Linked DNA regions of Homo sapiens: region 1 is linked to region 2. The links come from fine-mapping of genetic effects on gene expression. A gene starts in region 2. The other region holds a variant in brackets. All regions are shown on one strand. Distances are between the middles of the regions. Region 1 overlaps GNA15 (G protein subunit alpha 15). Region 2 holds the start of S1PR4 (sphingosine-1-phosphate receptor 4).

Evidence for each region. PIP is the estimated chance that this variant, and not a neighbour inherited with it, causes the effect.
Region 1: its variant is fine-mapped to the expression of S1PR4 in whole blood (INTERVAL, PIP above 0.99).

What each region holds. Positions count from the first base shown.
Region 1 is chr19:3,139,565-3,148,974 of GRCh38, forward strand. GNA15 (G protein subunit alpha 15) reads left to right here. Exons shown (of 7, transcript NM_002068.4): 2 at 9,027-9,211. GNA15-DT (GNA15 divergent transcript) reads right to left here. Exons shown (of 4, transcript NR_110670.1): 2 at 9,052-9,410; 3 at 3,499-3,629; 4 at 2,012-2,866. Among named protein-coding and RNA genes, the nearest start is that of GNA15, 8.2 kb to the left of the region's middle. RefSeq lists an enhancer at 1,982-2,482. The variant C/T (reference allele first, on the strand shown) is at 5,154.
Region 2 is chr19:3,173,284-3,182,427 of GRCh38, forward strand. It overlaps S1PR4 (sphingosine-1-phosphate receptor 4), which reads left to right and starts at 5,486. Exons shown (of 1, transcript NM_003775.4): 1 at 5,486-7,049. The coding sequence starts at 5,510. The coding sequence ends at 6,664. RefSeq lists enhancers at 3,468-4,350, 5,934-6,583, 6,624-6,803, 6,844-7,073, 7,684-7,733 and a silencer at 5,154-5,703.

The DNA of each region.
Region 1 (9,410 bases), 34 kb before region 2:
AGCCTGGGTGACAGAGCAAAGCTGACTCTGTCTCAAAAAAAAAAAAAAAAAAATGCCGGGTGCAGTGGCTCATGCCTGTAATCCCAGCACTTTGGGAGGCCGAGGTGGGCAGATCATGAGGTCAGGAGGTTGAGAACATCCTGGCTAACACGATGAAACCCCGTCTCTACTAAAAATATAAAAAATCAGGGCTGGGTGCGGTGGCTCACGCCTGCAATCACAGCACTTTGGGGGGCCGAGGAGGGTGGATCACGAGGTCAGGAGATGGAGACCATCCTGGCTAATGTGGTGAAACCCCATCTCTACTAAAAATACAAAAATTAGCCAGGCGTGGTGGTGCGCACCTGTAGTCCCAGCTACTTGGGAGGGTGAGGCAGGAGAATTGCTCTAACTTGGAGGCAGAGGTTGCAGTGAGCCAAGATCACACCACTGAACTCCAGCCTAGGCAATAAGAGTGAAACTCCATCTCAAAAAAAAAAAATCTATCTATCTATCTATCTATCTATCTATCTATCTATCTATATTTGACATATTAATGTGTCATATTATGTCACATTATGACGTATCATATCGATATGTCTTATTATTTTAAATAAATAGGGCTACTTAGGCTATCTACTTCTTCTTGTGTGGGTTTTGATCATTTGTGTCTTTCAAATAATTTGTCCATTTTGCCTGTGTTATCAAATTTATTGGCATAACATTTATAACGTTCCCTTGTTCTCCTGCTACTGTCTGTAGGATCTGCAGTGATGTCCTCTCTTTTGCTCTTGGTATCGATCATTTCTGCCTTTGCTCATTTTTTTCTTGATCTATCAAGCTAGGGGTTTATCACTTTTAGTGCTCTTTCCTCGAATACCTCAAGGTCATTTATCCCTGACCTTTGCCTGGCTGGCCCTTTCACTCCATGTAGGTCTCAACCCAAGTGTCGCCTCCTCAGAGAAGTCTTCCCTGACTACCCTAGCTATAAAGACAGTCCTATCTTCTCCTTCCCCTTACTCTGTTTGATTTTTCTTCCTGGCCCTCACTATTTGTTCACTTGTTTATTGTTTATCTCTCCAGCTATACAGCAAGCAACAAAAGGGTAGGGACCACATCTGTCTTCTTCATCCCTGTGTCTCCAGCATCTAGCACAGGTGTACAATGAGCCTGCCATATAGTAGATGCTCAAGAAATGCTGAATGAATGAATGAATGAATGAATGAATCATTTTTGGGGAGAACTTCCCCCAGACACTGTATCATATCTTCCTGGAGCTGGGAAAGTCCCTTCCACATACCACTCTGGGCACTACTCAGCCAGCCTCAAAGCAGGAAGCCCCTTCTACTGATGGAGGGCAGGGGATGACATCCATGTCCCCAGGCACTGATGTAGCACTGTGGACTGTGGTTTAAACCACCTCATCCCTGGAGACAGGTCTGAGGGCAACCTCCAGACCTCTGTCCCTTCTTGGAAACAGGAATTGAATCCAAAAGCTGTTTTTTTTTTACCTGGAGGTGGCTGATCCTTTTGAGGAAGATGGCAAAAAGGACCAGGGTGGGGGTGGGTCTGTCCCTGACATGAAGCAACCCTCATATTGGGGAAGGGGGAGAGTCAGAATGAAGCCGTGAGCCGGGTATGGTGGCACATACCTGTAGTCCCAGTTACTCGGGAGGCTAAGGCAGGAGGATTGCTTGAGCCCAGGAGTTCAAGACCAGCCTGGACAACATTGCGAGACCCAGTCTCTAAACAAAAACAAAAAAAGAAAAGAAAAGAAAGTGAACAACAACAAAAACAGGAAAATAAAGCTGTGAAAGGGACCAGTTATGTCCTTAGCACTTTAAACATTTTATTTTTTATTTTTATTTTTGAGACAGAGTCTTACTCTATCACCCCGGTTGGAGTGCAGTGGTGCGATCTCGGCTCACGGCAACCTTTGCCTCCTGGGTTCAAGCAATCCTCTTGCCTCAGCTTCCTGAGTAGCTGGGACTACAAGTGTGCACCATCATGCCCAGCTAATTTTTGTATTTTTAGTAGAGACGGGGTTTCACCATGTTAGCCAGGCTGGTCTCGAACTCCTGACCTCAGGTGATCCATCTGCCTTGGCCTCCCCAAAGTGACGAGATTAGAGATGTGAGCCATTGTGCCCGGCCTGTTCTTAGCACTTTGAGGCAGGCACTCCTAGTTTCCCCCAAAGGATAAACTGAGGCTCAGAGAGGCAGAGCGACTTGCCCAAGGTCACACAGCTGAGACTCGCACCTAGAATTCTGGTTCCAAAGTCCATGCTCCTGACTGCCCTGTTCGCCTGCCTTGGGGGACAGAAACACCACAGAACCCCAGTGCCAGATGGGGAAAATGAGGCCCAAGGAGGCAGCAGGATTGATTGGGGGTCAGCAGCTAGTTTGAGCCAGAGCGGGACTGAGAGGCCGAGCCTCCTGCCCCTGCGGCTGCCTGGCCTGGCTCCCCACTTCCCCAGCAGCTGCGTTTCCTGTGAGGGCCTGGTGCTGGACTCTGTGCACATAGCTGGCTCCAGTTGCCTTGTGATGACTGGGGCTTGGCACGGTTAACCCAGTTCCTTCCTGGCATCTGCCGGTTCCACTTCCTCCTGTCCTCCTCCGTGCCCAGGAGGAAGCAGGAACTTCCCGTCTGGGCCGCATGGCCTTTGGGGGTATCCTAAAACAGATCACTCCCACCATTTCTATCCAGGAGCTGGGGGATGTCTGGGGGTCGGGGGGCAATGGAGAGGTCCCAGAATCCTTTGTGGCTTCAGGACAGCAATGGATTGCAAAGAGGGGGTTCTCACGCAGCTCTTCAGGCTTCGGGTGATGACCCATCCCTGAGTCATCAAATCTGTGTCGCGGGTGGCAACAGGATTATCATTTATTTCCTATAACAAAGCAGAAGAGGAAAAAAAAATCAGTGCATCACAAAATAAAGCCAACTGTTGCTTGCCAAGACTTATGTTTGTTCTCTGCACTTTGGGGCAAACTAAGATCTGAGAGTTGGAAGACAACTGGGGGACAGGAGCCCAAAAGGTCCAGTCCTGGCTGGGCGCGGTGGCTCAGGCCTGTCATCCCAGCACTTTGGGAGGCTGAGGAGGGGTGGATCACTTGAGGCCAGGAGTTCAAGACCAGTCTGGCCAACATGGTGAAACCTCGTCTCTACTAAAAACACAAAAATTAGCCGGGTGTGGTGGTGCACGCCTCTAATCCCAGCTGCCTGGGAGGCTGAGGCAGGAGAATCGCTTGAACCTGGGAGGAGGAGGTTGCGGTGTGCTGAGATCACACCATTGCACTCCAGTCTGTGTGACAGAGCCAGACTCTATATCAAAAAATAAAAATAAAAACAAAAAGTAAAAAAAAGGAAGAAGAAGATCTGAGGGTTGGAAGGCAATTGGGGGACAGGAGCTCAAAAAGTCCAGTCATCGGCAGTTGGGCTCAATGCCACACCCCAAGGAGCTGTCGAGCCTCCCAGACTCTGTAAAAACATTGCTTTAACAGACGTGTTAATGACACCTACCCCAGCTCGACTGGCCGTGTCCCATTTTGTTGGTGAAGGACTCACACGACCCCAAGTTTACTCCCCTGGGGTTCCACTTGCTGTGTGACCCAAATTAAGTCACTAAACCTCTCTGGTCCTCTGTGTCTCATCTGCAAATGGGAAAATCATAGAATCTGTGAGGATTAACTGGGGATCCGTAGAGTCTCTGGGCTCGGGGTTGGGAAGACGGTAAGATTTAAATCATGCTAGCTGTGATTTTTATTATGATTGTTATAATCATTCAGGCAGGGTAAAGGAACCTCCAGGTATAATAATTTAGAAACCCATAAGCTCAAGGTGGCTCATGCCTGTAATCCCAGTACTTTGGGAGGCCAAGGCAAGTGGATCCCTTGAGGCCAGGAGTTCGAGACCAGCCTGGCCAAAATGGCAAAACCCTGTCTCTACTAAAAATACAAAAATTAGCCGGACACGGTGGTGCACACCTGTAATGACAGCTAGTCTGGAGGTTGAGGCAGGAGAATCGCTTGAAACCCATGAGGTGGAGGTTGCAGTGAGCCAATATCAAGCCACTGCACTCTAGCCTGGGTGACAGAGTGAGACCCTGTCTCAAAAATAATAATAATAATAAAAAATAAAAGCCCATAGGCTCTAGACTCAAACAGAACTGAGTTTGAATCCCAGTCTGCCACTCACCAGGACCATTGAAGGAATTGTGCGACCCACAGCAATTCCCTCAACGGCCCCGAGACTGAGTTTCCCCACATGGAAACAGGGCTAAGAGTTGTCCCTCTCTTGGCCAGGCGCAGTGGCTCACGCCTGTAATCCCAGCACTTTGGGAGGACGAGGCGGGTGGATCACAAGGTCAGGAGATCGAGACCATCCTGGCTAACATGGTGAAACCCCGTCTCTACTAAAAAAAAACAAAAAAAATTAGCTGGGCATGGTGGTGGGCGCCTGTCGTCCCAGCTGCTTGGGAGGCTGAGGCAGGAGAATGGCGTGAACCCGGGAGGTGGAGCTTACAGTGAGCCGAGATCGCGACACTGCACTCCAGCCTGGGCGATAGAGCAAGAAAGACTCCCTCTCAAAAAAAAAAAAAAAGAGTTGTCCCCCTCTCGTGGTGAGGCTCAGGACAGATGGTGGGACTCCAGCTCTTAGCTCACCAGGGACACCCAGTCAAGGGCCAGCAAGCTCACAATTCCCTCTGCTACTAGCCCCAAATAGCCAAAGCTCCAAAAACTTGATGGTCCCCCATAGTGTCTCCATGAGAAACTCAAAGAAACGGGTGGGAGGATGTTTGTTTATTGCACTGACTCCCATTCCTACATTCCGCTGCAGGAATATTAGTGAGTTGACATGTCCCCATCCTAACATGCAATAAATTCTGGAATCTGAAGCTCTCACAGCTCTGCATCAGAGAATTTCAGATTGTGGACCTGGGGGATGTTGTCGTTTGAGTAGTTTGTTTGTTTATTTATTTATTTATATTTTATTTATTTTTTTTTGAGTCGGAGTCTCGCTCTGTCACCCAGGCTGGAGTGCAGTGGCATGATCTCGGCTCATTGCAAGCTCCGCCTCCCCGGTTCACGCCATTCTCCTGCCTCAGCCTCCCAAGTAGCTGGAACTACAGGCGCCCGCCACCATGCCCGGTTAATTTTTTGTATTTTTAGTAGAGA[C/T]GGGGTTTCACCGTGTTAGCCAGGATGGTCTCGATCTCCTGACCTCGTGATCCGCCCGCCTTGGCCTCCCATAGTGCTGAGATTACAGGCGTGAGCCACCGGGCCCGGCCCTTTATTTTTATTTTTTTTGAGACAGAGTCTGGCTCTGTCACCCAGGTTGGAGTGCAGTGGCATGATCTCGGCTCACTGCAGCCTCCGCCTCCCAGGTTCAAGCAATTCTCCTGCCTCAGCCTCCTGTGTAGCTGGGATTACAGGTGCGCGCCACCATGCCCAGCTAATTTTTGTATTTTTAGTAGAGACAGGGTTTTTGTATTTTTAGTAGAGACAGGGTTTCACCATGTTGGTCAGGCTGGTCTCGAACTCCTGACCTGGTGATCTGCCTGCCTCAGCTTCCCAAAGTGCTGGGATTACAGGCATGAGCCACTGCGCCCAGCCCTAGTTTTTAATTTTTTTTGGAAACTTTTTTTTTTGAGACAAGGTCTTGTTCTGTCACCCAGGCTGGAGTGCAGTGGTGTGATCATGGCTCACTGCAGCCTCAACCTCCTGGGCTCAAATGATCCTCCTACCTCAGCTTCATGAGTAGCTGTAACTACCAGTGTGCACCACTACGTCTGACTAAATATATATATATATATATATATATTTTTTTTTTTTTGTAGAGATGGGGTCTCACTATGTTGCCCAGGGTGGTCTTGAACTCCTTGGCCCAAGCCGCCCCCCTCCCTTAGCTTCCCAAAGCACTGGATTTATAGGCATGAGCCGCTACACCATGCCCAAGCATATACACTGTTTTCTGAACCATTTTTGACTAAGTTGCAGACCTGGTACCTTTTTTTATTTTTTTATTTTTGAGATAGAGTCTCACTCTGTCACCCAGGCTGGAGTGTAGTGGCACGATCTCAGCTCACTGCAACCTCTGCCTCGAGTTCAAGCAATTCTTCTGCCTCAGCCTCCCGAATAGCTGGGATTACAGGCGCCCACCAGCATGCCCCGCTAATTTTTGTATATTTAGTAGAGACAGAGTTTCACCGTGTTGGCCAGGCTGGTCTCGAACTCCTGACCTCAAGTGATCTGGCCACCTCAGCCTCCCAAAGTGCGGAGATTATAGGCGTGAGCCACTGTGCCCAGCCGAGAAAAGCCTGTTTCTTGACTTTGAGCCAAATAGACATGACCCCTGGAGAAACTGAGGACTGGAGAGTCGAGGCGGCCACCCCCGACCTGCCCCCATGGCTCTCCAGTGTGCAGGTGGCACCTGCTAGGTGGAGTTGGAGGCGTTGGAGACAGCCCTTTGGGGAGATGGGAGGTGACACCCCCGCCCCTTCTCCGTGCTCCGGCCTTCTCCTCTGCTCCCATTTCCTCTTTCTGGGCCCCAACCAAGCCACTCCTTCCCTTTTTGCTGCCGCTTGCTCGATCAAGTCCTGCCTGCACCGACCCCTACCCCCGCCCTCTGCACGCCAACCCTGGAGGCAGAAGCAGTCCCATCCCCTCTCCCATCGCTGGTTGGGGCCCATGCTGGTGCCCCCAGGAGCCAGACGAGATGCTGGGCAAGCCTCCAGCCCCCACCTCCCACCTGGTGGATCATACCCATTTTACAGATGAGAAAATTGAGACACAGAGAGGGGGAAGGGCAGCCTTGGGATGTCAGAGCTTAGCGGGGGGCTGAGCTGGTGTCTTTGAACCTCTAGTCCCAGGCTCTTGAAGACTCCAGCATCAGTATCCCGGACCCAGGGCCGGTTTGGCAGGTGCGCGAACTGGGCTGTCCCAGAGGGTTCCAGGCTCAGAAGAGCCTGAAGTTTCAGCTTGCACCCAGCCCCAGAAAATCTGTGGCTGGCCCTGCAAGGACCCTGCCAGATTTTGTACCATCTGTCAGCAAGGTCAGGTCGATTCTGTCTCCCCAGTGTCTCTCAAATATGTCCTCTCCTCTCCAGCTCCATGACAGCCACATTGGTCCAGCCCCACGGTTGCTCACCTGAACCAACGCAGTCCCCACTGCCCTGGTCCGGGCTCCCCCAGACCACCCCCCACAGCCTGTCCTCCCTGCAGCAGCCACCAGAGGGCGCCTGTGAGCACCTGAGTCAGGGCCAGTCCCTCCTCTGCCCACAGCCCTCCATGGCTCCCAAGTCCCTCAGGGTCAAAGCCCAAGACTTCCCTGCAACCCACAAGGCCCAGCACAACCCACCCTCCCCTCCTTCCTCTCTCCCCCTCCTCACTCTGCTCCAGCCACAAGGGCCTCCTCACTGTTCCTCCAATATGCCAGGTGCGGCCCTGCCCCAGGGCCTTTGCACAAGCTGTTACTGTCACCTGGTGTGCCCTCTAAGATTTTGACAGCCACCTTCCGGCCTTCACAAATCACTTTCACTGAGAGGCCTTCCTTGACTGCTCACAAATCACTTCCACTGAGAGGCCTTCCTTGACTGCGTGGCTATCGTAGTCACCTAATTACTCCTTGCCCTATTTATCCTATGTTATTTCTTTCGTAAAAGTTTCTCTACCTGAAATTATTGTAGCAAATAATAATACATATTAGTATTGTTATGATAAATAATAAAAATAGGCCAGGCACGGTGGCTCACGCCTGTAATCCCAGCACTTTGGGAGGCCGAGGCAGACGGATCACTTGAGCCCAGGAATTTGAGACCAGCCTGGCTAACATGGTGAAACCACAGCTGTACTAAAAATACAAAAATTAACTAGGCGTGGTGGCACGCGCCTGTTACCCCAGCTACTTGGGAGGCTGAGGGAGGAGAATCACTTGAACCTGGGAGCCAGAGGTTGCAGTGAGCTGAGATTGCGCCATTGCACTCCAGCCTGGGCAACAGAGAATCTGTCTAAAAAAAAAGAAAAAAAGAAAAAAGAAAAAAACCCATAAGAACCATAACCATAAAAAGTATTAAAAACACAAAAACTGGCCAGGCGCGGTGGCTCACGCTTGTAATCCCAGCACTTTGGGAGGCCGAGGCGGGTGGATCACGAGGTCAAGACCACGGTGAAACCCCGTCTCTACTAAAAATACAAAAAAATTAGCCGGGCGTGGTGGCGGGTGCCTGTAGTCCCAGCTACTCAGAGAGGCTGAGGCAGGAGAATGGTGTGAACCCGGGAGACGGAGCTTGCAGTGAGCCGAGGTCGCGCCACTGCACTCCAGCCTGGGTGACAGAGCAAGACTCCATCTCAAAAAAAAAAAAAAAAAGAAGAGAAAAAGAAAACAAAAACAAACAAAAACTTTCTGGCCACACAAAGATAACTGGATCTGGCCCTCAAGCAGCCGGAGTTTGCGACCCTTACCGTGAGCATTTTATAATCAATTCATTTGGCCCTCAGTTTGATGCAGCAGGCATGGTCTGTTGAGGTCCATGTTTTGTTTTTTTTGTTTGTTTGTTTTGTTTTTTTTTGAGACAGAATCTCGCCCTGTCGCTCAGGCTGGAGTACAATGGTGTGATCTCAGCTCACTGCAATCTCTGCCTCCCAGGTTCAAGCGATTCTCCTGCCTCAGCCTCCTGCGTAGCTGGGATTACAGGCGTGAGCCACCACACCCGGCTAATTTTGTATTTTTAATAGAGATGGGGTTTCGCCATGTTTACCAGGTTGGTCTCTAACTCCTGACCTCAGGTGATCCGCCTGCCTCAGCCTCCCAAAGTGCTGGGACTACAGGCATGAGCCACCGTGCCCAGCCTGAGGTTCATGTTTTACAGATGGGGAAACCAAGGCACAGAGCGGCAAAGCCGCTAGCCTAGGGTCACTGAGTGAGGTCCCGGCTGCACCGGGGTTTGAACCCAGGAGGCCTGGCGTGGAGTTGGGGGTGTCTGACGTGGGGTTGGGGGTGTCGGGGGTGGGAGTCCCGTGGAGGGCTGAGCGGTTCTGCTGCTCCATCCCCAGGCCCAGGCGAGAGCGGGAAGAGCACCTTCATCAAGCAGATGCGGATCATCCACGGCGCCGGCTACTCGGAGGAGGAGCGCAAGGGCTTCCGGCCCCTGGTCTACCAGAACATCTTCGTGTCCATGCGGGCCATGATCGAGGCCATGGAGCGGCTGCAGATTCCATTCAGCAGGCCCGAGAGCAAGGTGAGCCGCCAGGGCAGGCAGGGGCCCAGGGCAGGCAGGGGCCCAGGGCAGGGTTCCCCAGACCCCGGAGCAGGGCCAAGTTCCCCAGACTTCAGGGCAGGGCAGGGCAGGGCAGGGCAGGCAGGGAAGGGTCCCCAGACCCTGGGGCAAGGCCATGTCCTCCAGACATATGTGCATACATACAAGTGCACACACAAGT
Region 2 (9,144 bases):
CTGTGTTCTCATGGGACACCTGTGCCCTCATGGGACGCCTGTGTTCTCATGGGACGCCTGTGCCCTCATGGGATGCCTGTGCCCTCATGGGACGCCTGTGACCTCATGGGATGCCTGTGTTCTCATGGGACGCCTGTGTTCTCATGGGACGCCTGTGCCCTCATGGGACGCCTGTGTTCTCATGGGACGCCTGTGCCCTCATGGGATGCCTGTGCCCTCATGGGATGCCTGTGCCCTCATGGGACGCCTGTGTTCTCATGGGACGCCTGTGCCCCTCATGGGACGCCTGTGCCCTCATGGGACGCCTGTGCCCTCATGGGACGCCTGTGTTCTCATGGGACGCCTGTGCCCCTCATGGGACGCCTGTGCCCTCATGGGACGCCTGTGCCCTCATGGGACGCCTGTGTTCTCATGGGACGCCTGTGCCCCTCATGGGACGCCTGTGTTCTCATGGGACTCCTGTGCCCTCATGGGACGCCTGTGTTCTCATGGGACGCCTGTGCCCCTCATGGGACGCCTGTGTTCTCATGGGACGCCTGTGCCCTCATGGGACGCCTGTGTTCTCATGGGACGCCTGTGCCCCTCATGGGACACCTGTGTTCTCATGGGACGCCTGTGCCCTCATGGGACGCCTGTGTTCTCATGGGACGCCTGTGCCTCTCATGGGACACCTGTGTTCTCATGGGACGCCTGTGCCCTCATGGGACGCCTGTGCCCTCATGGGACACCTGTGTTCTCATGGGACGCCTGCATTCTCATGGGACGCCTGTGCCCTCATGGGACACCTGTGTTCTCATGGGACACCTGTGTTCTCATGGGATGCCTGTGCCCTCATGGGATGCCTGTACCCCTCATGGGACGCCTGTGTTCTCATGGGATGCCTGTACCCTCATGGGACGCCTGTACCCCTCATGGGACATCTGTGCCCTCATGGGATGCCTGTGCCCCTCATGGGATGCCTGTGCCCTCATGGGACGCCTGTGTTCTCATGGGATGCCTGTACCCTCATGGGACGCCTGTGCCCCTCATGGGATGCCTGTGTTCTCATGGGATGCCCGTGCCCCGCATGGGACGCCTGAATTCTCATGGGACACCTGTGCCCTCATGGGACACCTGTGTTCTCATGGGACGCCTGTGTTCTCATGGGACACCTGTGCCCTCATGGGACGCCTGTGTTCTCATGGGACGCCTGTGCCCTCATGGGACGCCTGTGTTCTCATGGGACGCCTGTGCCCTCATGGGACGCCTGTGCCCTCATGGGACGCCTGTGTTCTCATGGGACGCCTGTGCCCCTCATGGGACGCCTGTGCCCTCATGGGACGCCTGTGTTCTCATGGGACGCCTGTGCCCCTCATGGGACGCCTGTGTTCTCATGGGACGCCTGTGCCCTCATGGGACGCCTGTGCCCTCATGGGACGCCTGTGCCCTCATGGGACGCCTGTGTTCTCATGGGACGCCTGTGCCCTCATGGGACGCCTGTGCCCTCATGGGACGCCTGTGTTCTCATGGGACGCCTGTGCCCTCATGGGACGCCTGTGCCCTCATGGGACGCCTGTGTTCTCATGGGACGCCTGTGTTCTCATGGGACGCCTGTGCCCCTCATGGGACGCCTGTGTTCTCATGGGACGCCTGTGCCCTCATGGGACGCCTGTGTTCTCATGGGACGCCTGTGCCCCTCATGGGACGCCTGTGTTCTCATGGGACGCCTGTGCCCCTCATGGGACACCTGTGCCCTCATGGGACGCCTGTGCCCTCATGGGACGCCTGTGTTCTCATGGGACGCCTGTGCCCCTCATGGGACGCCTGTGCCCTCATGGGACGCCTGTGTTCTCATGGGACGCCTGTGCCCCTCATGGGACACCTGTGTTCTCATGGGACGCCTGTGCCCTCATGGGACGCCTGTGTTCTCATGGGACGCCTGTGCCCCTCATGGGACACCTGTGTTCTCATGGGACGCCTGTGCCCTCATGGGACGCCTGTGTTCTCATGGGACGCCTGTGCCCCTCATGGGACACCTGTGTTCTCACGGGACGCCTGTGCCCTCATGGGACGCCTGTGTTCTCATGGGACGCCTGTGCCCCTCATGGGACGCCTGTGTTCTCATGGGACGCCTGTGCCCCTCATGGGACACCTGTGCCCTCATGGGACGCCTGTGCCCTCATGGGACGCCTGCGTTCTCATGGGACGCCTGCATTCTCATGGGACGCCTGTGCCCTCATGGGACACCTGTGTTCTCATGGGACACCTGTGTTCTCATGGGATGCCTGTGCCCTCATGGGATGCCTGTACCCCTCATGGGACGCCTGTGTTCTCATGGGATGCCTGTACCCTCATGGGACGCCTGTACCCCTCATGGGACATCTGTGCTCTCATGGGATGCCTGTGCCCCTCATGGGATGCCTGTGCCCTCATGGGACGCCTGCATTCTCATGGGACACCTGTGCCCTCATGGGATGCCTGTACCCTCATGGGACGCCTGTGCCCCTCATGGGATGCCTGTGTTCTCATGGGATGCCTGTGCCCCTCATGGGACGCCTGCATTCTCATGGGACACCTGTGCCCTCATGGGATGCCTGTACCCTTCATGGGACGCCTGTGTGTGGTTGCCATGATTACTACCTGAGACTGTCACTACGACAGTTACTATTGTTACTACTTGAGACCATCATTACAAGACTGAACGAAGGGACGAATGTAGAAATGAAAACTTAAGACAGAAGAAACTGTTTTAAAGGAAGGGACCAGGGGAAGAAAAAGAGAGCTCCCTGCTTCTAGTGAGCAAAGGCAGCCCCCCAAGCTTCTACAGCCCTTCGTACTTATTGGGTAGAAAGCAGGGGGAGGAAACGATTGGCCAGCTGCTTGATTGTTCACACGTTCACGTTATTGCTAACAGGTTTCAGATTTGCCTACTTGCAAGAAACACTTGTGCCTGGGGCGTGACTGCCCTCAGCATTCCTTCTGGGCGGCAGACGCAGTTTGTCAGTTTGCCAACAGCCTGCTTTCATGAGAACAGTTTGCTGTTTACTCACGTAGCCTCCAGTGGTATACTGAGTTGATCACAACCCTCATTCTTTCGGCCTTCAACACCTGAGCCCTCACGGGACATCTGTGCCCCTCATGGGACACCTGTGTCCTCGCAGTACACTTGTGACCCTTCCAGGACACCTTACTGGTAGAATTAGTGTAGCTGCCCCCACCCTGAGGCCAAGGACACCATTGTCTCAGGAAGGCTGAAGACCACAGGCTCCTGGGGGGACAGAGGGCAGGTGGGGCCCCTCAGGACCCTCCTTGGTGGTAAGTGGGCCTGGCCTGGGGGTGATTGCAGGCGGGAGGAGGCTCCCAGCAGGGACTTATCCTGGGTCCTACTCACACTTCTGGGGCCTGCATTATTTCCCAAATCACCCCACACCCCAAGGCCTTCTGGATGGGGACGAGTGGGGGGTCACAGACACTGGGGGAGCTGGAGAGCAGAGACCTCACACTCCATCCGTGACAGATGATGTCCAAGCCCCTACATGCCCCAGACCCCAGGGCAAGGCTGAGCCTCCCTCCTCAGACCCCAGGGCAAGGCTGAGCATCCCCACTCAGACCTCAGGGTAGGGCCTCGCCTCCTCCCTTGGACCCCAGGACAGGGCCTCACCTCTCCCCTCAGACCCCAAGGCAGGGCCTCGCCTCCCCCCTCAGACTCAGGACAGGGCCATGCCTCCCCACTCAGACCCCAAGGCAAGGCCAACCCTCACCCCTAGACCCCAGGCAGGTTCAAGCCTCCCCGCTCAAACCTCAGGGCAGGGCATACCTCCCTCCTCAGACCCAGGGCAGGGTGTGTCTCCCCTCTCAGACCACAGCACAGGGCCTCGCATCCCTCCTCAGACCCCAGGACAAGGCTGAGCCTCTCCGCTCAGACCCCAGGGTAAGGTCATGCCTCCCCTCTCAGAACCTAGGGCAAGGCCAACCCTCCCCCCTCAGACCCCAGGCAGGTCCAAGCTTCCCCCTCAGACGCCAGGGCAGAGCCTGCCTCCCTCCTCAGACGCCAGAGCAGGGTGTGTCTCCCACTTAGACCCACAGCCACCTCACCTCAGGCTGAGTCACCGTGAGCCGTTGTCAGCAGGGCCATGGGGATGGGGTGAGCAAGTCCCTACTTTTCCTATGCACCTCAATCCCAGTGGGGGGCTGCCCCAGGGGGCCAGCAGCTCTGCTCCCAGCAGGGTGAGCTCAGGGGCAGGAGAGGCAACCATGAATCCCAAAATGGGCGCCTGGCCCCGAGACCCTACCAGCTTGTCCCTGGGGGTCTCTCTCCCTGGACCTGTGTGTCCTCCCATGGGCAGAAAGTTGGCCTCAGGCCGCCTTTGTGGGCCTCAGTTTTCCCTTCTGTAACGCATCAGGCTCTCTGGGCCTCAGTTTCCCCTTCTGCAACGCATCGGGCTCTCTGGGCCTCAGTTTCCCCTTCTGCAACGCATCGGGCTCTCTGGGCCTCAGTTTCCCCTTCTGCAACGCATCGGGCTCTCTGGGCCTCAGTTTCCCCTTCTGCAACGCCTCGGGCTCTCTGGGCCTCAGTTTCCCCTTCTGCAACGCATCGGGCTCTCTGGGCCTCAGTTTCCCCTTCTGCAACGCCTCGGGCTCTCTGGGCCTCAGTTTCCCCTTCTGCAACGCCTCGGGCTCTCTGGGCCTCAGTTTCCCCTTCTGCAACGCATCGGGCTCTCTGGGCCTCAGTTTCCCCTTCTGCAACGCATCGGGCTCTCTGGGCCTCAGTTTCCCCTTCTGCAACGCATCGGGCTCTCTGGGCCTCAGTTTCCCCTTCTGCAACGCCTCGGGCTCTCTGGGCCTCAGTTTCCCCTTCTGCAACGCCTCGGGCTCTCTGGGCCTCAGTTTCCCCTTCTGCAACGCATCGGGCTCTCTGGGCCTCAGTTTCCCCTTCTGCAACGCATCGGGCTCTCTGGGCCTCAGTTTCCCCTTCTGCAACGCACCGGGCTCTCTGGGCCTCAGTTTCCTCTTCTGTAACGCATCAGGCCCTGTTTCGGGGATCAAGTCGGATGAGTCAGTGCTCAAGGGCATGCAGGCACTTGACATTTATTAGGCACCTGCTGTGTGCTGAGCGCCGGTGGAGCATGTGGGGAGACCTCAGTGGAGCCGACGGGTGCTTCGGGGGTGATCAGGGCTGGTGGGGAGGAGTCGTCCGGCTGGAAAGGGGTGGCCCATCCCGAGTGGGGACTCATTTCCCCTCCGTGACTGACGGCTCCGGGGCTCCCTGCGGGTCTCCGGCTTTCGAGGACAGGAAGAAGGCAGCCAGGGCAGGGGTGGGGGTCCTCACAGCCAGGGCAGCCCCAGCGCGTTGGCTCCAGGAGCCCGGGTGGGGGCCGACCGTTGGGGTGCCCCTCCCTGTCCTCGGCCTTACCTCCACCCTGGAGGGCACCTTGAACATAACAGGAAATTTCAAATAACAGGAAACCAAGACCAGCAAGGCGGGTGGCTCCACCCTGCGTCGGGCCTCAGTCAGCCCCCGGGGGAGGCCATGAACGCCACGGGGACCCCGGTGGCCCCCGAGTCCTGCCAACAGCTGGCGGCCGGCGGGCACAGCCGGCTCATTGTTCTGCACTACAACCACTCGGGCCGGCTGGCCGGGCGCGGGGGGCCGGAGGATGGCGGCCTGGGGGCCCTGCGGGGGCTGTCGGTGGCCGCCAGCTGCCTGGTGGTGCTGGAGAACTTGCTGGTGCTGGCGGCCATCACCAGCCACATGCGGTCGCGACGCTGGGTCTACTATTGCCTGGTGAACATCACGCTGAGTGACCTGCTCACGGGCGCGGCCTACCTGGCCAACGTGCTGCTGTCGGGGGCCCGCACCTTCCGTCTGGCGCCCGCCCAGTGGTTCCTACGGGAGGGCCTGCTCTTCACCGCCCTGGCCGCCTCCACCTTCAGCCTGCTCTTCACTGCAGGGGAGCGCTTTGCCACCATGGTGCGGCCGGTGGCCGAGAGCGGGGCCACCAAGACCAGCCGCGTCTACGGCTTCATCGGCCTCTGCTGGCTGCTGGCCGCGCTGCTGGGGATGCTGCCTTTGCTGGGCTGGAACTGCCTGTGCGCCTTTGACCGCTGCTCCAGCCTTCTGCCCCTCTACTCCAAGCGCTACATCCTCTTCTGCCTGGTGATCTTCGCCGGCGTCCTGGCCACCATCATGGGCCTCTATGGGGCCATCTTCCGCCTGGTGCAGGCCAGCGGGCAGAAGGCCCCACGCCCAGCGGCCCGCCGCAAGGCCCGCCGCCTGCTGAAGACGGTGCTGATGATCCTGCTGGCCTTCCTGGTGTGCTGGGGCCCACTCTTCGGGCTGCTGCTGGCCGACGTCTTTGGCTCCAACCTCTGGGCCCAGGAGTACCTGCGGGGCATGGACTGGATCCTGGCCCTGGCCGTCCTCAACTCGGCGGTCAACCCCATCATCTACTCCTTCCGCAGCAGGGAGGTGTGCAGAGCCGTGCTCAGCTTCCTCTGCTGCGGGTGTCTCCGGCTGGGCATGCGAGGGCCCGGGGACTGCCTGGCCCGGGCCGTCGAGGCTCACTCCGGAGCTTCCACCACCGACAGCTCTCTGAGGCCAAGGGACAGCTTTCGCGGCTCCCGCTCGCTCAGCTTTCGGATGCGGGAGCCCCTGTCCAGCATCTCCAGCGTGCGGAGCATCTGAAGTTGCAGTCTTGCGTGTGGATGGTGCAGCCACCGGGTGCGTGCCAGGCAGGCCCTCCTGGGGTACAGGAAGCTGTGTGCACGCAGCCTCGCCTGTATGGGGAGCAGGGAACGGGACAGGCCCCCATGGTCTTCCCGGTGGCCTCTCGGGGCTTCTGACGCCAAATGGGCTTCCCATGGTCACCCTGGACAAGGAGGCAACCACCCCACCTCCCCGTAGGAGCAGAGAGCACCCTGGTGTGGGGGCGAGTGGGTTCCCCACAACCCCGCTTCTGTGTGATTCTGGGGAAGTCCCGGCCCCTCTCTGGGCCTCAGTAGGGCTCCCAGGCTGCAAGGGGTGGACTGTGGGATGCATGCCCTGGCAACATTGAAGTTCGATCATGGTACGTGATGTTGCGGCCTCTTATTCCCTGGTGCGTGCATGCGTGGGGGCCGTGGCTCAGGGGGGCTGTGGATCTAGGGGCAGCCGGGTGTGTCTTTGCTAGAGAGGGCCACGGGCCAGTGCCCTGTGAGGGTGGAGTGTGTGTGTGTGTGTGTGTGTGTGTGTGTGTGTGTGGACAACCTCTGGGCGTTGCGGGAAGTGGGGGTGACAATGACAGTTAATGCCGCCTCTTCTTGTTCACTTCCCCTTTAGAAATGGCAGGGCCCATGCCCCATCTCTGGCCTCTGCATCTTTTGGGGACCCACTCTCTGGGGCTGGCAGAGGCACCACCTTGGCTTCCTGGGCTGGGGGAATCTTCCCTCACATCCCCTTCAGCATGAACGGCCTCGGCTTTCCCGGTGGGTAAAACAGTTTAATCACTGAAGCCGAAGCACAGGGTTGATTGTACACGCTCCCCGCCAGCCACAGGGGCTGACAACTGCCTGCCCCGTGAAACTCCAGTGGAGACGTTTCAGCTCCACACCATTCAGTATGGGAGACGCCAGCCCCACGGGGCTACGGTGCAAGCAGATAACTGAATTTCGAAGTGTAGGTTGTGTTTAATTTGAATCTGTTTATATTTCGGTAGCCCCATGGGGCGGGTGGCCACAGTTTCAGTGCAGATGTAAATCCGGAAGCCTCCAGCACCTGCAGCTCATAGACAGCTCTCGCCCACCTTCTCCCAGGACCAAGCCAGTCCCGTCCAGTCCAGTGTCTGAGCAGAGTCAGAATCCACACCACCCGCCGCCTGGGCTCAGAAAGTTCTGCTTTAAGTCATTATTTCTCCACTGTACGATGGGGAATGCGGTGTGTGGGGGCCATTTACCCACCAACACAGCAGCTGTGAGGCACACACGGCTATTGAAAATTCATGGAAATTGCTGGGTGTGGTGGCTCATGCCTGTAATCCCAGCACTTTGGGAGGCCGAGGCAGGAGGATTGCTTGAGTGCAGGAGTTCCAGACCAGCCTGGGCAACATAGCGAAACCACATCTCTACAAAAAAATCCTCCAAAATTAAAAAAATTAGCCCGAGCATGTTGTTGCATGCCTGTGGTTCCAGCTACTCGAGAGGCTGAGGTGGGAGGATCACTTGAGCCCGGGAGGTCGAGGCTGCAGGGAGCGGTGATCGTGCCAGCCTGGGTGACAGAGTGAGACCCTGTCTCTAAAAAAAAATTAAAAAAAAAAAAAAAAGAAAATTCATTGAAATTAAATGAAAGTTAGGCCAGGTGCATTGGTTCATGCCTGTAATCGCAGCACTTTGGGGGGCCGAGGTGGGTGGATCATGAGGTCAGGAGTTCAAGACCAGCCTGGCTAAGATGGTGAAACCCTGTCTCTACTAAAAATACAAAAAATAAGCTGGGTGCGGTGGCAGGCGCCTGTAATCCCAGCTACTCGGGAGGCTGAGGCAGGAGAATCGCTTGAACTCGGAGGGTGGAGGTTGCAGTGAGCTGGGATTGCTCCACTGCACTCCAGTCTGGGCGATAGAGTGAGACTCCGTCTCAAAAAACAAAACAAAAACAACAACAAAAAAGAAATTAAATGAAAGTTAAAAATTTAGTCTCTCAGTGTATTGATTTGCTAGGGCAGCCATGACAGTCTCACAGATGGAGAGGCTTGAAAACAGACATTTATGCTGCCATAATTCTGGAAGCCAGAAGTCTGAGATGAAGGTGTGAGTAGGGCTGGGTCCTCCTGAGGCTGACGGGGATCTGCCCAGGCCTCTCCCAGTTCCTGCTGGTGGCCGGCGTCCTTGATGTTCCTTGGCTTGGAGAAGCGTCAGCCGCATCTCTGCCTCCATCTCCACAAGGCGCCCTCCCTGGGTCTGTATCCAAACTCCCCCAACTCCTTCAACCTTTTTTATTTTAAGAGATGAGGGGCCGGGCGCCGTGGCTCACGCCTGTAATCCCAGCACTTTGGGAGGCCGAGGTGGGCGGATCACGAGGTCAGGAGATAGAGACCATCCTGGCTAACACGGTGAAGCCCCATCTTTACTAAAAATACAAAGAATTAGCCAGGCGTGGTGGCGGGTGCCTGTAGTCCCAGCTACTCTGGAGGCTGA